Regions from separate parts of the Homo sapiens genome. Here region 1 is linked to region 2. A link means that fine-mapping ties the variant in region 2 to the expression of a gene that starts in the linked region. Tissue or cell type: skeletal muscle. Region 2 holds a variant in brackets; the other region holds the start of a gene. All regions are shown on one strand. Distances are from middle to middle.

The links. PIP is the estimated chance that this variant, and not a neighbour inherited with it, causes the effect.
Region 1: HRCT1 starts here. The variant in region 2 is fine-mapped to the expression of HRCT1 in skeletal muscle (FUSION, PIP 0.95).

What each region holds. Positions count from the first base shown.
Region 1 is chr9:35,903,430-35,908,657 of GRCh38, forward strand. HRCT1 (histidine rich carboxyl terminus 1) reads left to right here and starts at 2,773. Exons shown (of 1, transcript NM_001039792.2): 1 at 2,773-3,707. The coding sequence starts at 2,859. The coding sequence ends at 3,206. LOC124902149 (a long non-coding RNA gene) reads right to left here and starts at 2,241. Exons shown (of 3, transcript XR_007061471.1): 1 at 939-2,241; 2 at 9-60. RefSeq lists an enhancer at 1,439-2,320.
Region 2 is chr9:35,779,058-35,784,285 of GRCh38, forward strand. It overlaps a transcript of RGP1 not described here. Among named protein-coding and RNA genes, the nearest start is that of NPR2, 9.9 kb to the right of the region's middle. The variant GT/G (reference allele first, on the strand shown) is at 2,926.

The sequences.
Region 1 (5,228 bases), 120 kb after region 2:
AAGCTTACCCATCAGCTGTGTGGTCTAGAACTCCCATTCCTTGGCTAGGAAGTCCCAACCCTGAGGAAGAAATACAATGACAAGCTTTTCTGAAGCGGGGGATCCGGAAACACAGCCACAGTGTCCTTAAAGTTATCAGTCTTGCAAACCCTCATGTACAGTATACAGTCAAGCCTCCAAGAAGGTCTCTGTCACTTCTTTTTTTTTTTTTTTTTTTTTGAGACTGGGTCTTGCTGTGTTGCCCAGGCTGGAGCACAATGGTGTGATCTCAGTCCACTGCAGTCTCAACTTCCCAGGCTCAAGCAACCCTCCTGCCTCAGCCTCCTGAATAGCTGGGATTATAGACATGTGCCACCATGCTCAGCTAATCTTTTGTATTTTTTATAGAGGCAGGGTTTCGCCATGTTGCCCAGGCTGGTTTTGAACTCCTGGGCTCAAATGATCCACCCCTCTTAGCCTCCCAAAATGCTGTGATTACAGGCTACTGCACCTGGCTGTGTCACTTCTTAACATTTATGCCTAGTGTTCCATTATTGGAACACTAAGCATGTGGGAGTTATTTTTATCATACTGATCAAGGTCATTGCCAAGGTCTGATTGCAAAAATTCAAAAAATTGCAACCTTAGGCATAAATGGGTTAAGTCATGGAGGACTGTATTCTCAATGGCTGTCCCTCACTGCCCCCAGGAGTGCCCAAAGCATCTAAACAAATGTTCACTTTGGGATCCTACTACCCAGATGGAGAGTGAACCTGCACCTAAGGAAACAGATGTCGTGTGTATGTGTATGTGTGAGGGGGCACTCCCAACCCCTGCGCCCTCCAGGTTTATTCACATCTCCACCTCATCTTCCCGCTGTCTCTGTGGAAGGCCCTGCTGATCTCAGGCTGTCACTCTGGACGGCTCCCTCACTGCAGGGATGGTGCTCTGTTGAGTACCTGCTGTATAGATTAGCGCACGAGGCTGGGAGAACTTAGGCAAGTGTTTCCCTTCTCTGGCTTCAGTTTCTCCATCTGTCAGTGAAGGCTGAGTCTGGGTGATTCCAAGGGGCCGTTTGAGCTGACTGAAGTTCTTCAAGTTCATAGTTGTAAGGTCCTGCCCCGCCGCCAGCGGCTGGTGTGGGGTGGGAGTCTTCCTGGAGAAGTTCTGAGGACGAAAATCCCCTGTTTGCCTTCCTCCTCCTCCTCCTCACAACAGACTTCCCTCCTTAACTTCCCTAGGGAAGGCAGCCGGGCTCCCAGGGCCCCAGGAGTCTGCAGGAGGAGTTCTTACTCCAGCATCATTAAAAGTTCAAGTAGCTCCCCCAAGGGCCAAAGAAGTGCCAGGATTCATTAGACCTGCTGCCCCCTGAGCCCAGTTTGGTTGAAGGGAATGTTTAGCCTTTTCATCTGGTGAGGGTTTTCATTAAGGGTTTGAGGCCTCCCTAAGAGAACTCACCTCAGACTGAGGTCAGAGGGGGAAGGGTCCCTGGAGGTCACCTCTTGCTCCGGGAGTTCTGCAGAGGAGACAGGCTGGATCAGGGCAAGGGGTTTGCCCAACATCACAGGGTGGAGGTGCTGCCAGAACTCAGAGAACCAGCCTTGCGGTGTCTGCAGACATTCCTCCAGGCGGTAGGGAGATGAGCCTGGAGGGAGGGGCTGGGGACTCAGCCTGGAGGGACCCTGCAGAGCCAGACACAGAGCTGGGGCTTTGGGGAGCCCCACTGCATGTGAGGAAGAGCTTGGAGAACAGCCCAGCATGCCCACAGCAGAAAGGGTTGCCCAGAGAGAGAGTGAGCACCTGTTGCTGAGGTCTGTCAGCAGGATGGGACGGTGCCTCCCAGGAGGAACAGAGGGGATTTGGGCCTGGCGGGTGGGCTTGGAGGGACAGTCAGTACTGCTCAGATCCTGCCGCTCTGTAAATGCTCCACTAGGCAGGAATGGCACTCATCACTGCTGGGCAGGGAGGGTGTGACAGAGCAAGGAGCATGCCATTTATGGCCAGTTGAGACTGTTGAACTGGGAACCAGGAGGCTGGGCTGTGCCTGCCCTCTCTGAGCTCAGTGGCCTCCTTCTTGCCTCCCAGCAAGCTTGGGAGGACACCCAGACCCTCCTGCCTCCCAGAACAGGCCGGATGGAGGACCTCCCTGGATGGCAAAATCTGCCTGTGGTGCCTCCCTGAGCTTCTCAAGCTCATTGAGCTCGGGATGGCTCATCTGACAGAGCCTGACTCAGCCCCGGAGGGCTCTGCAGGCTGCAGGACAGGGAATCACAGACTCTCAGATGTCAGTGTCTCCTGAGCCATGGAGTCCATTGCAGTAATATCAGTTGCAAACATGACGGGAGCTGGTGTTGCTGCTTTACGCATCTCAACTCCTTTAGTCCTCGGAACACCCTACTGAGGAAGGAACCGTTATCAGCCATTTTACAGAAGAGGAAACAGGACAGAGAGGTTAAGTAACTTGTGCACAATCTCAGAGCAAGTGAGTGGCGTGGCTCCAAAGCCCGTGTTGTTCATCTCTGTTCTACACAGTCTCTACGAGAGGAGACTGAAGTGCGGAGAGGGAAGGTCACTGAGCCAGGCAGCAGGAGGGTTTCTTTCCTCTAGACTCAGGGCTCCTCCCTCAACCAGATCCAGCCTGACAGCTCCTCTGTCTCCACCTGGCCTCCCTGCCAGGCCTCCTCAGAGTTAACAGCGGCCTGGCCTCACCCTTGGCCAGCAGTTGCAAGTCCAAACAGGCTTCGCCCACATTCCCTGGCTGCTCTCCAGCCCGCAGCAGAGACAACAAAGTTCAGTGACTGAGAGGGCTGAGCGGAGGCTGCTGAAGGGGAGAAAGGAGTGAGGAGCTGCTGGGCAGAGAGGGACTGTCCGGCTCCCAGATGCTGGGCCTCCTGGGGAGCACAGCCCTCGTGGGATGGATCACAGGTGCTGCTGTGGCGGTCCTGCTGCTGCTGCTGCTGCTGGCCACCTGCCTTTTCCACGGACGGCAGGACTGTGACGTGGAGAGGAACCGTACAGCTGCAGGGGGAAACCGAGTCCGCCGGGCCCAGCCTTGGCCCTTCCGGCGGCGGGGCCACCTGGGAATCTTTCACCATCACCGTCATCCTGGCCACGTATCTCATGTGCCGAATGTGGGCCTCCACCACCACCACCACCCCCGCCACACCCCTCACCACCTCCACCACCACCACCACCCCCACCGCCACCATCCCCGCCACGCTCGCTGAGGCTGCTGTCGCCGGTGCCTGTGGACAGCAGCTGCCCCTGCCCTCCCATCTGTTCCCAGGACAAGTGGACCCCATGTTTCCATGTGGAAGGATGCATCTCTGGGGTGAACGAGGGGAACAATAGACTGGGGCTTGCTCCAGCTGCATTTGCATGGCATGCCCCAGTGTACTATGGCAGCAGAGAATGGAGGAACACTGGGTCTGCAGTGCTGAAGGGTTTGGGGAGTGGAGAGCAAGGGTGCTCTTTCGGGGCTGGACAGCCCGTCTTGTGACAGTGACTCCCAGTGAGCCCCAGAAATGACAAGCGTGTCTTGGCAGAGCCAGCACACAAGTGGATGTGAAGTGCCCGTCTTGACCTCCTCATCAGGCTGCTGCAGGCCTCTGGCGGGCAGGGCACTGGGAGAGGCCCTGAGAATGTCCTTTTGGTTTGGAGAAGGCAGTGTGAGGCTGCACAGTCAATTCATCGGTGCCTTAGTCCAAGAAAATAAAAACCACTAAGAAGCTTTTGTGAAGAGGCTCTTGATTGCAGCATAGTGGGAGGGAGGGAGCTGCCTGGCCTGTGTCCTCATTGCCCTGGGACCTCCCTCTCTGATGGGAAGCGTGTGGCTGGAGCAGGCGGCTTCTGTCTGGTTCTTAGGGGCTGGTTGTGGAGTGGGAAGAATTGGGTGGGCTCTGTCTGAGCTCTGAGGGAGGATTCAGGGTTTGCACAAAACCCTGCCCACAGCAGGTCCTGTGTGCACCAGCAGGGCTCTGGCCTTCCGCGGGACAGTCCTCGGGGAGAGGAAGGTTGGAGCCGCTGCGAGCCTGGCTCCCCAGGGCTCTGCCCCTGTACTTTTTTCAGCCCATGTCCAGGGCAGACTGAGCTCTGAAACTCGAGGAAGCCCCATCCACAGGCTGCCTTGAATCCAGTTTCCTTGGTAATTGGATCAGGGTTTCTTCTCCAAGCCTTGCGTTTTCAGCCATCCTGCCCCAGCTGGTGCCTGTGTGTGGTGGGAGGGCTGGGAGGCAGCGAGTGGAGTTCTTTAAAGTGGAGGCTGTGGTGCTGGGGTGCAGGGTGTTGGATGGCCTTGGGAGAATGCTGGGGTCTCACTTTCCTCTTCTCTGCAATGGGGTGGATAACAGAGATGCCCACGTGCCGAAGCCTGGAGGCTCGTTGGAATATGCTCTGTGAACAGCTAGTGGGATCCACAGCGAGGAAGGAAGCCTGGCTCTGAGGCCTTCAGCCTGTGCCTGTGAGCTGAGGTGGGAATTGGGGGAAGACAAGGACTGGGGGCCAGGAGAGGCAGTGGGGAGGGGCTGGAGAGCAGGCCAGAGACTCAGGGACCTGGTGACTCACTGGAATAGAATGTCCTCTTTCCTTTCTATTTCCCAGTGGATTCTCTGTGAGGGCTGCAGGAGGAGGGAGTGAGAGAGAGAGGGAGGCAAATTCACACTGATTTCTCCCACCTGAGGTTTCTGGGTTGGGAAAGTTGACCCTAGGCTGCCGTGCAGTGTCGATTTTCTCTGCAGTGTCCTTCAAATCCACCCCCTTCTCCATTCCCATGCCCTGCCTAGCCCAGCCCCCTCCATCCCCCTCCTGGATTCCTGCCAGCCTGCTCCCTGCAGCCCTGCCCCTTTCCCAGGCATCTCCAGGCTGATTTCACAGATGAATCAAAGATGGGGAGGAGGTTCCCCGAAAGCAGGAAACGGAAAAGGAAGCCTATGCAGGGCAGGAGAGAACCCGCTGAGCAATTGCCCTTTATTCCAGTTCAAAAATGCGGAACCACTCAGACAATCTGCAGGCGGCCTATGGCTGCGTGTACACAGGAAGAATAGGCGATGAGAAATCAAAGGAACAAATGTTAAAGCTTGAGGCATAGTCTCCTGGTGCCCTCTATCACCCCAGTTAAGGAGGTGATGTTGGTAACTCAACCTGAAACCACAGGCCCTGCAGATCAGCCCGTCGTCTCCTTCCTCCTGGTCATCCCAGTTAATACAAACAATCCAAGGAATTGGCTTCCTGTCATGGCCCACAGCCTGCTC
Region 2 (5,228 bases):
TTTTTTTCTATTGCCCTGGAATTGGTGACTAGGGTCCAAAGCTGGGACAAAGAGGACTAAATACTGCACGTTCTAGAGAGAGTTGCTAATAATTGGATCAGAGCTCCTCTCCAGGGCTTACAAAGAGGTAGCAGAAGTGGCCCTGCAACTTCCAGCCAACCCATACCTTACCACCCCACCTCCATTCCCAGGCTATATAAGATAAAAGATGACTGAAGGGAGGCTGTCATGAGCCTAGCAGGGAGTACTTTTCCCTCCTTTCCCCCCTTAAAGTAAGCAAGGGAGTATGAAAGAGATCTACATGAAAGAGAGATTGATTTCTCATTCCTTGGTTAAACTATCTGTTTAGACAGTGGATTTGTTCAGCTCCGCACCTGTCTGAGAAGAGGAAAGGCAATTAGAGAAAGGAGGAAGGGCAGAGTAAGGGGATAGTAGTGGAATAGTCTGCATTCATTCTGTTTGGCTTAGCAAGGGTATGTGAGTTTCTGTGATCAAAGGGACACTGAGGAAGATCGCCGGGCTTGAGCCATCATGCTGGTAACCCATCCAAAAGGCTGCCACTGAACAGAAGTTAGGAGGGTTAAAGAGATGGCTTGGATCAGGATTCTCTGCATTAGGGCACAACTCAGTGGAGAAGCCCAGTAGGACCTTCTAAAGAACTCACATAACTGTCTCATAAGAGAGCCAGCATCTTTTTTTTTAAGATGGGGTCTGTTGCCTAGGCTGGGGTATAGTGTTGTGATCATGGCTTATTGCAGCCTGAATCTCTTGGGCACAAGTGATCCTCCTGCCTCAGCCTTCTGAGTATCTGGGACTGCAGGTTATGTGCCACCACACTCGGCTAATTAAAAAAAAATTTTCTTAGAGACAGGGTCTCTCTACGTTGCCCAGGCTGGTCTCAAACTCCTGGGCTCAAGTGATCCTCCTGCCTCAGCCTTCCAATGCCTTGGGCTTACAGGCATGAGCCACCATGTGCAAGAAAGATAGCATTTTGACATCTGCCAAACAACAGGTTGGCATGGTCTGTCAGCAAACAGTGGTTTGTGATAACTACCTTGTTAAATAAAAAGAGAGTTGTTCTTTTCCTCCCTGCCCTCCTCCTAGTTCTCAACCACCAAGGAGCTAAAACCCTTCTAGAGAACCTTCCAGAGAACTAGAAGAGGAGAAGCAGAATCAATAGAAGGGATCATATTCTTCTCTCCACCGCAGGTTCCTTAAGCCATGGCTTAAGATGAGTTCTGCATTGGACCTGAGACTGGAGTTTTAAGCCATATCGGACTGAGTCTTTAAATAACCAAAAGGGAGCAGAGTGTTATGGACTCTGACCATGATGTTGTGAAGAGGTACAAAGGAGACATTTGTCATGGCACAGATGAAGACTGATGGGTGGCAGGTTATGTTTATACCTGACCAAGCTCAATGCTCAACAGATAAGTTAAATTTATCCGTCACGAAATCTATCCCTGAATCCATTGTTCCACCTTTCCCTGCAGTCTCAGAGGAATTTCTTTTTCTTTTAAAGTGAATCCCTGGCTGGGCACGGTGGCTCACACCTGTGATCCCAGCACTTTGGGAGGATGAGGAGGGTGGATCACTTGAGCTCAGCAGTTTGAGATCAGCCTGGGCAACATGGTGAAACTCCATCTCTACCAAAAATACAAAACAAACAAACAAACAAACAAAAAACAACCAGGCGTGGTGGTGTGCATCTGTGGTCCCAGCTATTTGGGAGGCTGAAGTGGGAGGATTGATTGAGTCTCGGGGGATGGAGGTTGCAGTGAGCCAAGATGGCGCCACTGCACTCCAGCCTGGGTAACAGAGTGAGACTCTGTCTCAAAATATGACCAAATAAATAAAAATAAAGTGAATCCCTTCATCCATACTCATATATCCATTGAGAAAACATTTATTTGAATTCTAAAATATACTGCCAATGTAAGGTACAAAGATTAAGGACGATAAAATTCCTTCTCATGGAATACACAATCTAATGGGGCAGAAAGTACCTACTTTAAAACAAATGTATTAAATTAAATTGAAAAGTGGCCTGAGTAAGCCTCAAAAAAGACTAATTAGAACTCAAGGGAAGAGAAAACATTTCAGGCTGACAGAAAACCCATGGGCATAGAATAACATGACCCACTTAGAGGACTATAGATAGCTCTATATGTTTAGAAGGCATATGTGGCTGCAGAGGAGGCTGGAGAGGAAGATGGAGCCAGGACCACCTGGTGGACTGAGATTCTTGTTCTCCATCCTGCAGGCTAGTGGCTCTGAACAGCAGTAGTACTTTTCCTGGAGGGGCATTTTGGTCCGTGGTGGGTGCGCAGGAGATAGTGGGGGTGGGGGGAGGGGGTGGGGGGGCAGGCAGGAGGGGGTGGAGGGGAAGGGGCATTTTCTTGGTTGCTATAGTGATGAGAGTGGGTGCTACTGGCATTGTAGTAGTTGGAGGCCGCAGATGTTAGACTCTGCAATGTGAGGACAGTTCCACATAATTAAGAATGTATTCCATGAGAGAAGGAATTTCACCTTGTTTTGGTTGTTAATCCTTGTACCTTGACACTGGCAATACCTTTTAGGTGTCAAATAAATGTCCTGAATTCGGCATGATTTAGATATCCTGAGTTCTGCACAGTCTTCAAATATTCCACCAAACAGTTGTGTAGGGTGTTATATATAAATATATATATAAATACATCTGTTCTGTTATTGCTTATCCTAACACTGGTGTTTAATCCAGTATCTTTCTTTATGGAGTGGCTTCAGATCTCTTAAATCAAAATTTATTCATTCCCTGTAATTAGATGGAAGCATCTAATTACAATTAGCTGAGTGCCTCCTTTGGTGTTCTATCACAGTTATATCCAACCATTTACATATTGAAATACCTGTTTTTAAAATAAGTTATTGTCTTTTATTTCTCTC[GT/G]TTTTTTTTTTTTTTTTTTTTGAGATAGAGTCTCACTCTGTTGCCCAGGCTGGAGTGCAGTGGTGTGATCTCGGCTCACTGCAACCTCCCCCTCCCGGGTTCCAGGGATTCTTGTGCCTCAGCCTCCAGAGTAGCTGAGATTACAGGCGCCTGCCACTATGCCCGGCTATTATTTCTCTTCTATATTACAGGTAGGAAATTTTATTGATGTTTTGAAATTATGTGTAGAGATAGGTTGTATTATCTATGCATTTTATTTTAAGTTAGTAAAGGTGCCGTTAGAAAATAATTATTAGAAGGAAGATTTAGGTTTGGTAGCATCAAGAGTCATTGTTTAGTCACTGATTTTCAAAGTGTTATTTTGAGCTGCAGAGCTCAAATATTTTTGTTCATGAGCTCCTTAAAATAAAACACTCACACAATTTTAAATTGAAATCTAACTTTATTATTACAAGGTTTTTTGTTTTTGTTTTTGTTTTTTGAGACGGAGTCTCGCTCTGTTGCCCAGGCTGGAGTGCAGTGGCACGACCTCGGCTCACTGCAATCTCCGCCTCCTGGAATCAAATGATTCTCCTGCTCAGTCTCCCAAGTAGCTGGGATCACAGGCGCGTGCCATCGCGCCTGGCTAATTTTTGCATTTTTAGTAGAGACGGGGTTTCTCCATGTTGGTCAGGCTGGTCTCAAACTCCTGACCTCAGGTGATCCACCCTCCTTGGCCTCCCAAAGTGCTGGAATTACAGGTGTGAGCCACCACGCCAGGCCAGATAAAACAGACTTTTAACTATTTTATTGAATAAAGTACACCAACTATGAAATAAGTTACTTAATTTTTTTTTTTTTTTGAGACTGAGTTTTGCTCTTGTTGCCCAGGCTGGAGTGCAATGGTGTGATCTCGGCTCACTGCAACCTCCCCCTCCCCGGTTCAAGCGATTCTCGTGTCTCAGCCTCCCAAGTAGCTGGGATTACAGGCATGTGCCACCATTCCTGGCTAATTTTTGTATTATTAGTAGAGACGAGATTTCTCCATGTTGGTCGGGCTGGTCTCTAACTCCCAACCTCAGGTAATCCACCCACCTCGGCCTCCCAAAGTGCTGGGATTACAGGCGTGAGCCACTGCGCCTGGCCCTTAATTTTTTTATTCATTTATTCATTTATTCAACGTAGCTGAAGTATTTTTCTGCTTGTAAAACTTTTCAGTTTAATTTTCTCTTTTTATTTTATTTTTAATTGACAATAATTATACATACTTATGAAATACAATGTGATGGATACATGTATAGTGTGTAATTATCAAATTAAGACAATTAGTATCTCAAAAATTTATCATTTCTTTGTGGTAAGAACATTCAAAATCCTCTCTTCTAGCTATTTTGAAAAATACAATAATATTGTTAACCAAAGTCACCCTACTGTGCAAGGGAACACTGGAACTTACTCCTCCTGTCTATCTGTAACTTTGTTGGCCCACCTCACCCCATCTACCCCTCCTGCCTATGCTTCCCAACCTCTGGTAACAATTATTCTACTCTGTACTTCTAAGAGATCAGTTTTTGTTTTTTTTTTTAGATTCCACATATGAGTGAGATCCTGTGGTATAATGTCCTCCAGGCTCATCTATGCTGCTGCAAATGACAGGAATTCATTCTTTTTTATGGCTGAATAGTATTCCACTGTGTAAATATACCACATTATCTTTATCATTCATCTGTTGATGGACACTTGGGTTGATTCCATATCTTGGCTACTGTGAATAGAGCTGCAATAAACATGGAAGTGCAGACATTTCTTCAACATACTGATTTCATTTCCTTTGCATAAATACCCACTAGTGGGATTACTGGATAATATGGTAGTTCTATTTTTAATTTTTTGAGAAACCTCTATACTGTTTTTCATTATGGCGATACTAATTTATGTTCCCACTAGTATAAAAGTTCTCCTTTCTCCGCATCCTCATGAGCGTTTGTTAATTTTTGTCTTTTTGATAATAGCCATTCCAACTGGGATGAGATGATATCTCATTGAGGTTTTGATTTGCATTTCCCTGATGATTAGTGATATTGAGCATTTTTTCATATACCTGTTGGCCATTTGTATGTCTTCTTTTGAGAAATGTCTATTTTGCCCATTTAAAAATCATATTATTTGGGATTTTTTTTTGCTATTGAATTGTTGAGTTCCTTATATAGTCTAGGTATTAACCCCTTAGATGCATAGTTTGCAAATATTGTCTTCCATTCTGTAACTTGCCTCTTCATTTTGTTGACTGTCTCCTTTGCTGTGAAGAAGCTTTTTAATTTGA